Regions from separate parts of the Homo sapiens genome. Here region 1 is linked to region 2. Evidence: fine-mapped expression QTL. Tissue or cell type: fibroblasts. Region 2 holds a variant in brackets; the other region holds the start of a gene. All regions are shown on one strand. Distances are between the middles of the regions.

Evidence for each region. PIP is the estimated chance that this variant, and not a neighbour inherited with it, causes the effect.
Region 1: it holds the start of PUS7, and the variant in region 2 is fine-mapped to the expression of PUS7 in fibroblasts (GTEx, PIP above 0.99).

What each region holds. Positions count from the first base shown.
Region 1 is chr7:105,517,195-105,525,376 of GRCh38, reverse strand. PUS7 (pseudouridine synthase 7) reads left to right here and starts at 3,106. Exons shown (of 16, transcript NM_019042.5): 1 at 3,106-3,325. RefSeq lists enhancers at 1,841-2,341, 3,625-4,279, 4,594-5,211 and silencers at 2,978-3,727, 3,937-4,082.
Region 2 is chr7:105,492,161-105,500,342 of GRCh38, reverse strand. It overlaps PUS7 (pseudouridine synthase 7), which reads left to right. Exons shown (of 16, transcript NM_019042.5): 6 at 5,090-5,201. Among named protein-coding and RNA genes, the nearest start is that of PUS7, 26 kb to the left of the region's middle. The variant GTAATACTTT/T (reference allele first, on the strand shown) is at 3,573.

The DNA of each region.
Region 1 (8,182 bases), 25 kb before region 2:
GACTAGGGGGTAGGAATGGGTTTCAGGATGAACTGTTACACCTCAGATCATCAGGCATTAGATTCTCATAAGGTGCATGCAACCTAGATCCCTCACATGTGCAGTTCACAGTAGGGTTCTCGCTCCTATCAGAATCTAATCCCACCACTGATCTGACAGGAGGCAGAGCTCAGGCGGGAATGCTGCAGTGCAGCCTGGTTCCCAAAAGGCCACACTGACTGGTACCAGTCCGTGACTTGGGGGGGCTGGGGACCCCTGTTGTAGATTTTATGGGCTTGGACAAATGTATCATGACATACAGCCAGCATTACAGTATCATACAGAATAGTTTCACTTCCCTAAAAATTCTCTGTGCTCCACCTATTCATCCTTCCCTTTCTCCTAACTCCTGGCGACCACTAATTTTATTACTGTCTTATATAGTTTTGCCTTTTTTAGAATGTCATTTTGTCATTTAGTTGGATTCATATAGCTCGTGTCCTTTTCAGATTTTTTTTGTTTTTTTTTTTTGTTGTTGTTGTTGTTGTTGTTTTCTAGACAGTCTTACTCTGTCGCTCAGGCTGGAGTGCAATAGCATGATCCCGACGCACCCCAACCTCCACCTCCCAGGTTCAAGCAATTCTCCCGCCTCAGCCTCCCGCGTAGCTGGGATTACAGGTGTGTGCCACCATGCCTGGCTAATTTTTTGTATTTTTGGTAGAGATGGGGTTTCACGGTGTTGGCCAGGCTGGTCTCGAACTCCTGACCTCAAGTGATCCACCTGCCTCAGCCTCACAAAATGCTGTGATTACAGGCCTGAGTCACCATGCCTGGCCCAGATTGGTTTCTTTCACTTAGTAATATGCGTTTAAGGCTGGGCATGGTGGCTTACGCCTGTAATCCCAGCACTTCGGGAGGCCGAGGTGGGCAGATCACCTTATCTATTTAGATCTCAGAATAAATAAATACATAAAATAAAAAATATTTATTTATGTTTCCTCCATGTCTTTTCATGGCTTGCTAAGATCATTTCTTTTTGGCACCAAATAATATTCCATTGTTTGGATACAGCACAGTTTATTCAGCTACTGAAGGACATCTTGGTCTTTTTTTTTTTGAGACGGAGTCTCACTCTGTCCCCCAGGTTGGGGTGCAGTGGCATGATCTTGGCTCACCACAACCTCTGCCTCCTGGGTTCAAGCAATTTTCTGCCTCCGCCTCCTGAGTAGCTGGGATTACAGGCGCCCACCATCACGCCTGGCTAATTTTTGTATTTTTAGTAGAGATGGGGGTTTCACCATCTTGGCCAGGCTGGTCTTGAACTCCTGACATCGTGATCTGCCCACCTCGGGCTCCCAAAGTGCTGGAATTACAGGCGTGAGCTACCATACCCGGCCCGTCCTTAAGTTTTGGCAATTATGAATAATGCAGCTATAAACATACTTGTGCAGGTTTTTGTGTGAACATAGTTTTCAACTCCTTTAGGTAAATATCAAGGAGTGTAATTGCTGAATTGTATGGTAATAATATATTTCTTTTTTTTTTTTTGAGACAGAGTTTCCATCTTGTTGCCCAAGCTAGAGTGCAATGGTGCGATCTCAGCTCACTGCAACCTCCGCCTCCTGAGTTCAAGCGATTCTCCTGCCTCAGCCTCCCAAGTAGCTGGGATTACAGGCGCGTGCCACCACGTCTGGGTAATTTTTTGTATTTTTAGTAGAGACGGGGTTTCACCATGTTGGCCAGGCTGGTCTCAAACTCCTGACCTCATGATCCGCCCACCTCGGCCTCCCAAAGTGCTGGGATTACAGGCGTGAGCCACTGCGCCCGGCCGGTAATAGTATATTTCATTGTGTAAAAAACAAAACAAAAAAACAAATTGGGCAGGGCATGGTGGCTCATGCCTATAATCCCAGTACTTTGGGAGGCCTAGGCAGGCAAATCACTTGAGGTCAGGAGTTCAAGGCCAACAGGCAAAAACCCCGTCAAAAAAATTAGTCTGGCATGATGTCAAGCACTCGTAGGCCCAGCTACTCGGGAGGCTGATGCAGGAGAATCGCTTGAACCCTGCAACAGAGTGAGACTCTCTCTCAAACAAAATAAAACAAAACGGAAAAACTATTAGAGGCTGGGAGCGGTGGCTCACGCCTGTAATCTCAACACAGAGGCGGAGGCGGGCGGATCACGAAGTCAAGAGTTCGAGACCAGCCTGGCCAACATAGTGAAACCCCGTACTCTACTAAAAATACAAAAAATAAGCCGGGCATGGTGGCGTGCGCCAGTAATCCCAGCTACTCGGGAGGCTGAGGCAGGAGAATCGCTTGAACCCGGGTGGCGGAGGTTGCGGTGAGCAGCGATCGCGCCATTGCACTCCAGCCTGGGCGACAGAGCAAGACTCCGTCTCAAAAAACAAACAAACAAACAAAAAGCAAAAAAACTATTAGAGCCTGGGCAACATAGTGAAATCTTGTCTCTACCCCCCACCCCCAAAAAAATTAGCCTGGGTGCGGTGGGATGCACCTGTAGTCCCAGCTACTTGGGATACTGAAGTGGGAGGATTGCTTGAGCCTGGGAGGTCGAGGCTGCAGTGAACTGTGTTCACGCCACCGCACTCCAGCCTGTGCGACAGAGCGAGACTCTGTCAAAACCAAACCAAACCAAAACAAAAAAAACCTATGATCCGGTTTCTTGAAGCAGATCCTATGGCAAGCCATCAAGCCAGAGCGGTAAGAAGTAGGAAGATGGTGCTTTTAGATCCACTACATTCCCAGGATCAAATGTAGAACAATATTTAGTCCCTAAAGTGATTCTCTTTCCATTATTGTCAACTGCGTGGTCGGTGCAACGTGAAAGGGCCACAACTATGTGAAGGAAACACTTAGAATATAACACCAAAGGAGGCAATCGCTGCCTTAGACTTCCTAAAGATCTAAAGAACTCTTAGATGCTTGGTGAAATCGCTCTCTGCCGCTGGTGCGACTCAGGCGCGGTCGCGAGGAAGGTCCAGGGTGAACGCGCGTAGGCTGGGAGTCCGCGTTGGGGCGCTCCCTGGCTTGCAGGCCGCTCCGAGTGGGTGGGCCGGGGGCGGGGCCGGCGGCAGGGAGCGGACTCCGCCCCCGGGGCGGGTCCAGTCGGGCCGCGGCGCGTCGCTGCGCCGCACGTGTGCGAGCCCGGCCGCCGGTGAGTCGGCTGGAGCGCATCTGGTCCTCCGCGCGGAAAGCGCTGCTTTTGCCTGGCCGCCCTAGCCGCTGGCTCATCCAAGTGGCCTTCGCCGCTCTCTTGCGTCCCAACCAGAGCGCTGGCCACCTCGCCGCCCAGCTCACGCCGCGCCCGCGCTCCCAGGCTCCGGGTAAGTGCGCGGCCTCCCCGCGGCCGCCGGGGCTCCTCGGCCTGGCCCTGGCCCCAGCCCCAGCCCCAGGGCCCCGCCCCAAGAGGCAGTGCGGACTGGGAAGGCGGACTGGGAAGGCGGCCCCGCAGTGGTCAGAGCCCGCGGCGCCTCCATTATGGATCGTGCCAGCGGGAGCACGGTTGGAACCCAGTGGGTCCTGCGCTTCGGCGGTGCAGGCGCCGCTCTCCGCTCCCCGCTCCCCGCTCCGCTCTGCCCGGCCAGTCGTCCGGAGGCGCCGCGCCCGAGCGCTCCCCTCCTCCCCGCGCGGCGCTGTCCCCCGGGGGCCCCCTTCCCACTCCTCCCTTTCTTTGCCCCGGACGCTCCCTAAACTCTTGTCCCTCCGTCAGAGGAACACTGGCCCTGAAGCCCTTCACGGTGCCACTGCTTCGCCGCGCCTGCCTTCTGTGGGTCCAGCCCACGTGTTCCACCCCTGTGTCCTGCGTCGCCGCTCACTGGGAGCCTACTAGGCGCCACGCGGGCTCTGGGGACTGCTTGCTTTGTATGCATTTCCCAGAGTAGGAGTGGACGGGCTGCAGACTCAGAGTGCTTTCTCCAGCCCTCAAGCTGGGTGAATGCTTAACGAGTGGATGGAGGTGCTGCTGTGCAAGCTGAAATTCGAGTCCTCCTCGTCAGCCCTGCGCAGAGGTGTTTAGAAGCACACCTTCGTTGCCTGCCGAGTAGGGTTGGCAAAGAGTTTAGTTTTTAAAATATTTGGTCCCGTCAGACTACTTTTTTTTTCCATTCCAAAAATAAAGGGTTACTAAGGTTCCCTCCCCCCCATCCCCAAGCCTCTAATCATCTATGAAATGACTATGCCCCATTGGCCTGGGGGAGCCTCGACTATTGAGGGATCTGTCGAAAATCAGACTGTACAACACTATTGAAAAGGGGTTGGTTAGGCAATTGTTAGGTTCAAACATTAGGAAAGTAGCCAACAGTACGTACTTAACAACTCCTTGTGAACATGTTTTTGGTTTTTTTATTTTTATTTTTTTAATTTTTTTGAGACAGAATTTTGCTCTTGTTGCCCAGGCTGGAGTGCAGTTGCGTGATCATCGCTCACTGCAGCCTTGAACTCCTGGGCTCAAGCAATCCTCTCACCTCAGCCTCCCAAGTAGCTGGGACTATAGGCATGTGCCACCACACAGGGTCTCGCTGTGTTGCCCAGCCTGGCCTCAAACTCCTGACCTTAAGCAATCCTCCTGCTTTGACCTCCCAAAGTGCTGGAATTACAGGCTTGAGCAACCACACTCGGCCTTGAACATATCTTTGTTTTTTGATTTATTTTTTTTAGACGGAGTCTCACTCCATCACCCAGGCTGGAGTGCAATGGCACGATCTTGGCTCACTGCAACCTCAGCCTCCTGGGTTCAAGCGATTCTCCTGCCTCAGCCTCCGGAGTAGCTGGGATTACATGTGCACGCCACCATGCCCAGCTAATTTTTGTATTTTTATTTATTTATTTATTTATTTATTTATTTATTTATTTATTTTGAGACAGTCTCGCTCTGTCGCCCACATGTATTGCAGAGGCAGCACCTCCATCCACTCGTTAAGCATTCACCCAGCTTGAGGGCTGGAGATGTATTGCAGTGGCGCGATCTCGGCTCACTGCAGGCTCCGCCTCCCGGGTTCACGCCATTCTCCTGCCTCAGCCTCCCGAGTAGCTGGGACTACAGGCGCCCGCCACCACGCCCGGCTAATTTTTTATATTTTTAGTAGAGGCGGGGTTTCACTGTGTTAGCCAGGATGGTCTCGATTTCCTGACCTCATGATCTGCCCGCCTCTGCCTCCCAAAGTGCTGGGATTACAGGCGTGAGCCACCGCGCCCCGCCTAATTTTTGTATTTTTAGTAGAGACGGGGTTTCACCATGTTGGCCAGGCTGGTCTTGAACTTCAGACTTCAGGTGATCCACCCGCCTCAGCCTTCCGAAGTGCTGGGATTACAGGCGTGTGCCATCACACCCGGCCTTGAACGTGTCTTTTGATAGAGGCAGGGGCATGCATGTACTGTATTAATGAAGCAGCGTTTTTCCTTACCTAGGAGAGAGAGAGAACAATCCAGCTGGTCATACTGTCGACTAAGTTTGCTCCGGTTTCAGGTCCTTTACACGTGCTGTTCGGGCTGCCTGGAGCTCTCCTCACACACATCTTTTCCTGTCTGGTTCTTCCTTGTCTTTGCTCAGAAGTCTCCTCCTTAGACGAGGCATCACTGAAGAACACCCCTCTTACTCTCAGCCCCTTACCCTGTTTTAATTCTTTGGAGCTCGCATGTCCTGAGATTTATTTTGTTCTCAGATATATTCTCAAATACATTGTAAGCTACATGAGGACAGGAAATGGTATTACCCTTTTCTTCCAGTACCTACAACAATGCCAGACACATAGGACACTTGCTCAGTAAATATTTGCAGAATGAATGACCCTCATAGACTTAATGATTTTGCATATTAGAATGCAGTGTGTCTGCCGGGCCTGGTGACATCATGCCTGTAATCCCAGCACTCTGGGAGGCCGAGGCAGGCAGCTCGTTTGAGGTCAGGTCAGTAGTTTGAGACCATCCTGGCCAACATGGCGAAACCCCCTCTCTACTAAAAATACAAAAATTAGCTGGATGTGGTAATTTTAGCCCATGCCTGTAATCCCAGCTACTCGGGAGGCTGAGGTAGGAGAATCGCCGGAACGCTGGAAGTGGAGATTGCGGTGAGCCGAGACTGCACCACTGCACTCCAGCCTGGGCAACAGAGGAAAACTCCATCTCCAAAAAAAAAAAAATTAGTGTGTTCTCTGTGCTCTGGCCCTAAAGAAAATGCTCACTATTGTGAGAGCTATAGAGATTACTGATAATTTGCAGGGGATGGAGGAAAGATGTATTTACAAAGTGAAAGTTGTGGATAGTTTTGAAATATAATATGATAGAATTAAGACTAATGGCTGTTTTTGTAGGCTGGGCGCGGTGGCTCAGGCCTGTAATCCCAGCCCTTTGGGAGACCGAGGCGGGCGAATCATGAGGTCAGGAGTTCGAGACAATCTTGGATAACACGGTGAAAGCCCATCTCTATTAAAAATACAAAAAATTAGCCTGGTGTTGTGGCGGGCGCCTGTAATCCCAGCTACTCAGGAGGCTGAGGCAGGAGAATCTCGTGTACCCGGGAGGCAGAGGTTGCAGTGAGCCGAGATTGCGCCACTGCACTCCAGCCTGGGCAATAGAGTGAGACTCCGTCTCAAAAAATATACAAAATAAAATAAAAAATAATTCAAAAAAAGACTAATGGCTGTTTTTCTGATGTTTATTTTGGAGGAATTAATTAATAAGGGACTGTTTGGCCTGGGCGGTGGTGCACACCTGTAATCCCAGTTGAGGCAGGGCAGATCACTTGAGCTCAGGAGTTTGAGACTAGTGGGCAACATGGCAAAACCCTGTCTCTACAAAAAATACAAAAATTAACTGGGCATGGTGGCACATGCCTGTAGTCCCAGTTACTCGGGTGGCTGAAGTGGGAGGATCGCTTGAGCTGGGAGGTCGAGGCTGCATTGAACTGAGATCACGCCACTGCACTCCAGCCTGGGTGACAGAGTGAGACACTGTCTCAAAAAATAAATAAATAAACAAACAAGAGACTGTTGTTAGTGTTATATTAAAATTTTGAAAATGCTAAACTTAATTTTTGTTATAGGTGTAAAGGATTTTATTTTTTTTTTGAGACAGGGTCTTTCTGTCACCCAGGCTGAAGTGTAGTGGCACCATCACGGCTTACTGCAGCCTCAACGTCCTGGGCGCAGTGGATCTTCCCACCTCAGCCTCACAAGTAGCTGGGACTACAGGTGCATGCCACCTTGCCCGGCTTATTTTTATTTATTTTTTGAGACAGAGTCTCCCTCTGTCACCCAGGCTGGAGTGCAGTGGCGCAATCTCGGCTCACTGCGACTTCTGTCTCCCCAGTTCAAGCGATTCTCCTGTCTCAGCCTCCTGAGTAGCTGGGATTACAGGGCCACACCACCATGCATGGCTAATTTTTGGATTTTTAGTAGAAATGGGGTTTCGCCATGCTGGCCAGGCTGATTTCGAACTTTTGACCTTGTGATCTGCCCACCTCGGACTCCGAAAGTGCTGGGATTACAGGCATGAGACACCACACCCAGCTGCCTGGCTAATTTTTTAATTTTTTGCAGAGACATGGTCCCACTATGTTGTCCATGCTGGTCTCAAACTCCTGGTCTCAAGCCATCTACCTGCCTGCATTTTTTCAGAGATGAAGTCTCCCTCTGTTGCCCAGACTGGAGTGCAGTGGTGTGATCATAACTTACTGCAGCCTTAAACTGGTCTCACACAATCCTCCTGCCTCAGCCGCCCTGTTAGCTGGGACTACATGCACACATGCCCAGCTAAGAGTACTTCTTAAAGCTTAGTTGGTGAATCTAGTATTTTAATGAAAAGGGTTTTAAAATACTGTTAAAATTATAATATTTCTATTCTCAGTTGTCTCATTTGGAGTGCAGAGGAAACAAAAAACATTATTTTAGCATTCCCTCCAAAGAAATGTGAAGGATTGGCCAGGCGTGGTGGCTCATGCCTGTGATCCCAGCACTTTGGGAGGCCGAGGCAGGCAGATCACCTGAGGTCAGGAGTTCAAGACCAGCCTGGCCAACATGGTGAAAACCCGTCTCTACTAAAAATACAAAAATTAGCCAGGCGTGTTGGCGCATGCCTGTATGTACTCTCAGCTACTTGGGAGGCTGAGGCGGGAGGATCACTTGAACCCAGGAGGTGGAGGTTGCAGTGAGCAGAGATCACACCACTGTACTCCAGCCTGGGTA
Region 2 (8,182 bases):
TTTCTCTGCTTATGCGACACCCGCCTTTCTTTTTTTTGTTGTTGTTGTTACGAAGTTTCCTTAAGATTTTACAAGTGAAGTACTGAGCTGTGCGATGTGAACCACCCTTCCCCATTTTCGTTTGGACACCTTCAGTAAGAAAGGAATTTCTCACTTTAAAAAGAAGCAAGAAGGAAGTCAGATTGGATCAACTCCCTCTTGTATAGAGAACCACACTTCTTGGGCTTGTGGTGTTGTGACATTTCTTCAAAGATGGACTAAATCTCTGCCATCTCTCCCACCTCCTCATGGAAGGCCACCCCTGGCACAGATGGGCACTTAGGAGCCTGCATTCATTTTTATAGACCCCACTCTCCCCAAGCTGAGAGTGGCCTAAAGTGAACACCCCTAGGAAAGGAGGAAGAGCTGGTATCCAAAGATTATTGTTCATGGCCCTCTACCAGCGACAGCTTGTCCTCCTGAGCCATCTTGCCTAGCATTTGAATGATTTAGCTTTTAAAGTATCATTACAAAGCTTTGTAATTTACAGTTTTTTTTTAGCTGTATTACTACCAGATCCTGATAGAAATTGTTATTATGCATTATCTAGCAGATTCACAATATTCTTAACCTGAACTTTTCTCAGATAGAACTGTGCATCCTAAAACATAGATGTGGTGGATTCTAAATCATTGTTCCCAAACACCACAAATTACCAACTATTTAAACTCAGACATTATTTTATGTGTTAAGCCAGTCTGATAGGGCACATTGCTTTACCTACCAAAATGTATATGTGATTTTTTTTTAAAATACCATCTAAACTATCATAACATTACTGATAAATTAATTTATATTTTGAGACAGTATACATTCCAAATGCTTCTAAGAACATAGTTTTTAAAGACTTATGTAAAAAAAAGAAAATTCTGCCATGTGATAGGTACAGGTTCTCTATACTTTCTGAAATGAATGGTCCCCAGGAGGGATCCCTGTATGTAGGAATCCATAGAGACTCAGGAGGAAGAGCTAGACAGGTACAAAGAAGCTCTCTGGGAAAGACTGGTGTTATAGAATCCACAGGAATAGGGAATCCCAATAATCAGAGTGATCAATGGACTACCATTGCTTCCATTCCTGTGGCAATGGAAAATGCTACAGATAGGTCCAGCAAGATAATTACTCTGAAACCTGTCTATCAGTTTAGCAACATGGAAGTTGTTGGTGTCTTTTCACCGGAGCATTCTAGTGGAATGATGAGGTTGGAAACCAGTTTACATAGTAGGTTGAGATGGAAGGTAGTATATACAGACTGCTTTTTCAAATAACCTGCAAAGAGGAGAAGAAGCGAACATAATTAAGGAGAGGGGAACATAGGTTAGGCTTTTAAGATGGAAGAGCTGTGAGTTATTTATATATGCAAGGGAGACAATGGAGGGCCAGGCGCAGTGGCTCACGCCTGTAATCCCAGCACTTTGAGAGGCCGAGGCGGGCAGATCACTTGAGGCCTGGAGTTCCAGACCTGCCTGGCCAACATGGCAAAACCTCATCTCTATAAAAAGAAAAATATATATTTTCAAAAAGGAAAGAGACAATGGAGAGAGAAGGTGAAAATTCAGGGAGGCAAATAACAAAATAAAGATAATGGATGGAGTAGGATCCCTGAAAAAGCTGAAGGTTGGTGTGCAGGGGTGTGATGGTGGGAATGACCTTGAATAAGAAGGAAGGAATGTTCCGCATGCTACCCCATCTTTTCATCTTTCTCAGCTAGAAACATTTTTCCTTCTTTATTCATGGAGATGTCTGTGCTCAATAAATCAAACTTCCTGAACTTGGTTTCCCTTTTATCTGGTTTCCATTTCTGCTAGACTGGGACTGCCTTGTTAGGCCCTCAGAAGCTGGATGCAGCCTTCTTCAAATAGGAACCATATTACCCAGCCTGGGAATTCTGTGCATTTGCAGTATAAATCAGTGTCTCAAAAATGTCTGCAAGTTATTTTAAATTCATTCAAATTGTAAAGCTAAGTATATGCTGCTTAGCATTCTTAGGGGGTGGAGTTTTATAAAGTCACACAAATTGCCCAAAATAAATGGAGACTCATTGATTTTCTGTTATTTAAAATATTCCCAGTTAATCAATGCATATGCTTACTATTTTGTATATTGAGTGTACTTAGAAAAAGAATGCATACTTGTATCTGTTGTTTGCAAAGGAGATAATTGTATGCATGCTCAGTGCTTGGATTTGCTAAATAGAAGATGCATGCTTGTGAGCCAAAACTCATACTCTGTTGTCATGGTTTCTCTTAAGGTATAGCAGCATTTAGTTTTTGAGTCTTGTGGCTTCATTTATTTCTTGTCATTATACTTAATTATGAATACTCCAAAGGGGTAGTTGAGAAAAATGTAGCTACACTTCATCAACTTTTATCACAAGTGTTTTTAAAGTTTTTATTATGGACATTTTCAAACTTGCAGTCAAATAGAGGAAATAGTATATGGAACCTATGTACCCATAAACCATCTTTAAGATTATCAACATTCTGTTGTTTTATTGATTTATCCTTCCTCCTTTTTTTTCTTGCTGGAGCATTTTAAAGGAAATTCTACATAGCATGGCTTTTCACTCATAAATATTTCAGTATCTATTTGCCAGATGAGGACTGAAACCCCAAACTATTATCACATCCAAAAACATCAACAATAATTTCTTCCTATCACATACCTATTGCATATTTGGTTTTGCTGTATCTCAAAAATGTCTTTTTTATATGCAGATGGCTTGTTCAAAGAATGATAAAAACAAGGTCAGAACATTGCACTCATTGATAAGCCTCTTAAGTCGTCTCTTAAATCTTTTTTAATCTATAAAGAACTTAGCTGTTTTCTATAATATTTAACATTTTTCAAATTTAAAAGTCTTTATAATTCAATGCAAGAAATTCATGAAACGCAGAAAAAGCAAAGCAATAGTTACTTGTCTCACTATCAAAAAAAAGATAATCACAAATAGCATTTTGGTACATGTCCTCCCATATTTAAGTAAACAGATCTCTTTTTGGGGAAGCATTTACTATCCTTAAACCTTTTGCTTCATCTCATGGGTACAGACAGTGCAGCTTTGAGCGTGAACTAACATGCCCATTGTGAAGGGATTGAGACAAGGAGGCTGCACCTGTAGAAGAGTTTTCTACTTGTTCACTGTTTGCCTCTAAAACATTCCATTGTTAATGTCTAAATGGCTGTTAACCCACCGCATAACTACCGGGTGCTGTAGAAGTCCTCAGTGTAAACTTAACCATGCGATCATTTGCATGTTCACCTCTAAAGCACTTTAATATTATAAATTAAACATTGCTCTTTTGTGCTCTTTATGCTGTGCATTTGGACAGAGGTCAGAACTGCAGCAGGTAAGAGCATTTGGCATTTCATGTAGATAAAGTGAAATGCCAAAGATTTTGTCACAAGTGCTAAGTATAGACAACTTTGCTTAACTGATAGTGAGCTGGAAGGAAAACCGAAAATGATATTCCTGCTCAACAGTTTTCTGAAGAACTTGTGAGGAATTCACACCAAGGACTAAAGAAATACTT[GTAATACTTT/T]TCTGTCCAAGACAGAAAAAACTCACATATTTATCAAGAAGGAAGGGTGATTCACTAAGCATACATGCTATGGCAGTTTTCTGAAATGGTTTATGGAGTCTTTTGTTCTTTTCATTGTAACTTATCACTAACTTACCAAACAGTGCTTTTGCCTTGACAAAGCCAGGTATCCAAGTACCAGCTTCGGTACCAGCAGTATCTTAAGCCTCTGAAGATAAGGGATTCATGAGTTCATGAAAAAGGATTATTTTTAAAAGAAGAGGACTCTTTCTAGGAATTGTTGTATGAAACATTTTTTCAGTTTTTCTTTCATGGAGTTACAGTAATCAAATGAACTAGATGTGTTGTTTAAGTAACAACTGCAGCTCTGTGCCACACAGGACTCATGAATGTTATTGTACAGCGTCTATAAAGTGCAGTTTAGGCTTACATATTTTTCCCAAAGTACTTAAAAAAAAACATTTTGAGCAGCTTAAATCTAAAGCATATATATGTATGTGTCTCTCCCTCTCTCTCTCTCTCTCTCTCTCTCTCTATATATATATATATATATATATATATATATGTGTGTGTGTGTAGATATGCATACTTTTTTTTTTTTTTGAGACGGAGTCTCGCTCTTGTTGCCCAGGCTGGAATGCAATGGCACGATCTTGGCTCGGTAACCTCCACCTCCTGGGTTCAAGCAATTCTCTTGCCTCAGCCTCCCAAGTAGCTGGAATTACAGGCACTCGCCACAATGCCCAGCTAATTTTTGTATTTTTAGTAGAGACGGGGTTTCACCATGTTGGCCAGGCTTGTCTCAAACTCCTGACCTCAGGTGATCCGCCCATCTCAGCCTCCCAAAGTGCTGGGATTACAGTGCATGGGATTACACTCGGCCTAAATCTTACATTGTTTAACACAGGATTGAACAACTGAAGTAACACTAGCTGCTCAGAAGTTAACATTTAACCTGGCTTAATTTTTTTATGTTCTTTTTTTTAATTAAAAATGTTTTTCTTTTATTTATTTTTTGAGACAGGGTCTTGCTCTGTCACCCATGCTGGAGTGCAGTAGCATGATCTCGGTTCACTACAACCTCCACCCTACATGTTCATGTGATCCTCCCACCTCAGCCATCTGAGTAGTTGGGACCACAGGCGTGTACCACCATGCCTGGCTATTTTTAGTGGAGACGGGTCTTGCCATGTTGCCCAGGCCAGTCTTGAACTCCTGAGCTCAAGCCATCTTGCCCGCCTTGGCCTCCCAAAGTCCTGAGATTACAGGTGTGAGCCACCGTGCCCAGCCACATTTTAGCTTTTTATTTTTAATATGGATAGATAATGTTAAGTGTCCAATTACAGGAAATGTAATACCTCTAGTCCACACAGCTATAACCACTTAACCTGTATTTCTTTATCAGACTAGAACTGATTTTCCACTCAAAGGTTCTATAGCGAAAAATGAGCTCTTACATCTATAACTTTTATTATGGTATATATAATGTTAATTCTTTTGCTTTCAAGATCCAAGAAAACATTCTTGGCCAAAATCTAGGGGAAGTTACTGCCACTTCGTACTATATAAGGAAAACAAAGACACCATGGATGCTATTAATGTACTCTCCAAATACTTAAGGTGAGTTACTGTTGTTATGCCTATACAAAATCAAAGCAACAGAAACGTATATTCCTTTTTCCATGCTAATGGAAAAAGGAGCAGGAGGAGCACAGATTACAGATAGTAAATGCTCCTCCCAATGATAGTTTTCTTTCTTTCTTTCTTTCTTTTTTTTTTTTTTTTTTTAGACAGTCTCACTCTGTCACTCAGGCTGGAGTGAATGATGGTATGATCAGGCTCACTGCAGCCTTGACTTCCTGGGCTCAGGCATTCCTCCTACCTTAGCCTCCTGAGTAGCTGGGATTACAGGCGTATGCCACAATGCCAGGCTAATTTTATTAGGTTTTAGAGACAGAGTCTCACTATATTGCCCAGGCTGGTCTCGAACTCCTGTGCTCAAGCAGTCCTCACACTTCAGCCTCCCAAAGTACTGGGATTAAGAATTGCCGATCGGCCTGGCGCAGTGGCTCACACCTGTAATTCCAGCACTTTGGGAGGCCGAGGAAGGCAGATCACGAGGTCAAGAGATCGAGACCATCTTGGCCAACATGGTGAAACCCAATCTCTACTAAAAATACAAAAATTAGCTGGGCATGGTGGCATGTGCCTGTAGTGTTAGCTGCTCAGGAGGCTGAGGCAGGAGAATTGCTTGAACCTGGGAAGCAGAGGTTGCGGTAAGCCGAGATTGTGCCACTGCACTCCAGCCTGGCAACAGAGCAAGACTCCATCTCAAAAAAAAAAAAAAAAAAAAAAAAAATCACTGATCATGGATAGGAAGTGCATTGTTTCTTCCAGGCGTGAGCCACTGTGCCAGGCCGTGAGGATAGTTTTCTTAGGCAATGGATGAATTAATTTTTTTGACCCCCACATACGTAGTGCCAATAATTCAAGATGAAAATTCCATAAGTAAATGATTCGCATGCAGCTGAGAGTTAACAATCTGGTTGAAAATAAAAATTAACTTTCTCTTTTGAAAGCCTATACTTATCCTTTGACGTGGTTGCAGAGGTTGGTTTTGCCAGACTGGGAGCTCTCAATTCCTGGAGACTGACTAAACCTGAGACCGGTCTGATTTTCTAACAGGAATGTAAATATAGCAGAGACTGGATCTCTGGGGATCGGCAAGGTGCCAAAGCTTTTCTTAAAAATGGAAGTGGCTACACACCACAGCAAGTCTGTATGCTGTGGAAATTTGGTTTCCAATATATATTTAACTCATTTTAAATATGGAAACAGTGTATTAATTTGCTAGGACTTCCATAACAAAATACCACAGATCAGGTGGCTTAACAGAAATTACTTTTCATATGCTTCTAGAGGCTAACAGTCCCAAGCTCAAGGTGTCGGCAAGTTTGTTTTTTTTCCGGAAGCCTCTCTCCTTGGCTCGCAGATGGCTGCCTTCTCACTGTGTCTTCATGTGGCATTTTCCCTGTGCACGCACACCCCTGGTATCTGTGTGTGTCCCCATTTCCTCTTCTTAGGAGGATACCAGTCAGATTGGATTAGTGCCCACCCTAAATGGCCTCATTTTAACTGAATCACCTCTTTGAAGGCCCTATCTCCAAATACAGTCACATTCTGAGGTCCTGGGGGGTCAGAGCTTCAACATACTAATTTTGGGGGAGACACAGTTCAGCCCATAATACACAGTACCCAATTAAGTAACATTTATTTTGCTCTATTTATTAACTCCCTGGGAGAGAGTCTGTGCTACTATGCCTGTACCTGAGCCAGAGAGAACAGACGATTCTTGACAGGAATAGGTGGGTGGGGAGGGAGTTCCTCCAAGATCGGGAGTTGAGGATTGCTCAGGATTTAAGAAATCCTTCCTGGCTTTTTCCTTCTCATATGGAACGGTTAAGTTTATAAAATACTTCTTAGTTAACTAGGTTACTTATTATCTTCATATCAAAACTATTCAGATCCCAGTTTTAGCATTTCATTTGGCTTTTTTCATTTTTTAATACAAAGCAATAGCAGCATGGAAAATTCACACAATAACTTTTTAAAAACTGAAGATAAATTTTCATAGTGGTACATTATATCTCTAGAATGCATTTTTCTTTGCTTTCACTGTCTTATGTAATGTAATGAATTGTAGATGATGGATAGGAAGTGCATTGTTGCCTTTTTTGTTGCTGGCTAGCCAAGTCTTTGAACAACATCAGTTATTTACTAATAGCCACAAATGTTTACACTGCTAAGAAAGGAATTATTGACTGGGCGCAGTGGCTCACCCCTGTAATCCTAGCACTTTGGGAGGCCGAGGCGGGTGGATCACCTGAGGTCGAGCATTCAAGACCAGCCTGGCCAACATGGCGAAACCCCATCTCTATTAAAAATACAAAAAATCGGCCGGGCGCGGTGGCTCACGCCTGTAATCCCAGCACTTTGGGAGGCCGAGGCGGGCGGATCACGAGGTCAGGAGATCGAGACCATCCCGGCTAAAAAACGGTGAAACCCCGTCTCTACTAAAAATACAAAAAATTAGCCGGGCGTAGTGGCGGGCGCCTGTAGTCCCAGCTACTTGGGAGGCTGAGGCAGGAGAATGGCGTGAACCCGGGAGGCGGAGCTTGCAGTGAGCCGAGATCCCGCCACTGCACTCCAGCCTGGGCGACAGAGCGAGACTCTGTCTCAAAAAAAAAAAAAAAAAAAAAAATACAAAAAATCAGCCAGATGTGGTGGTGCATGCCTGTAATCCCAGCTACTTGGGAGGCTGAAGCAGGAGAATTGCTTGAACCCAGGAGGCAGAGGTTGCAGTGAGCCAAGATTGTGCCGCTGCACTCCAGCCTGGGTGACAGAGAGAGACTCCGTCTCAAAAAAAAAAGCGAAGAATTATTTGGCCATCATTTACCTTTTTTGTTTTTTTTTAAAGAGAGCAGGTCTTACTACGTCACCCAGGCAGGAGTGTAGTGTGCAGTGGCTGTTCACAGGCACCATCATAGCGCACTGTAGCCTCCAACTCCTGAGCGCAGACAGTCCTCCTGCCTCAGGCCTCC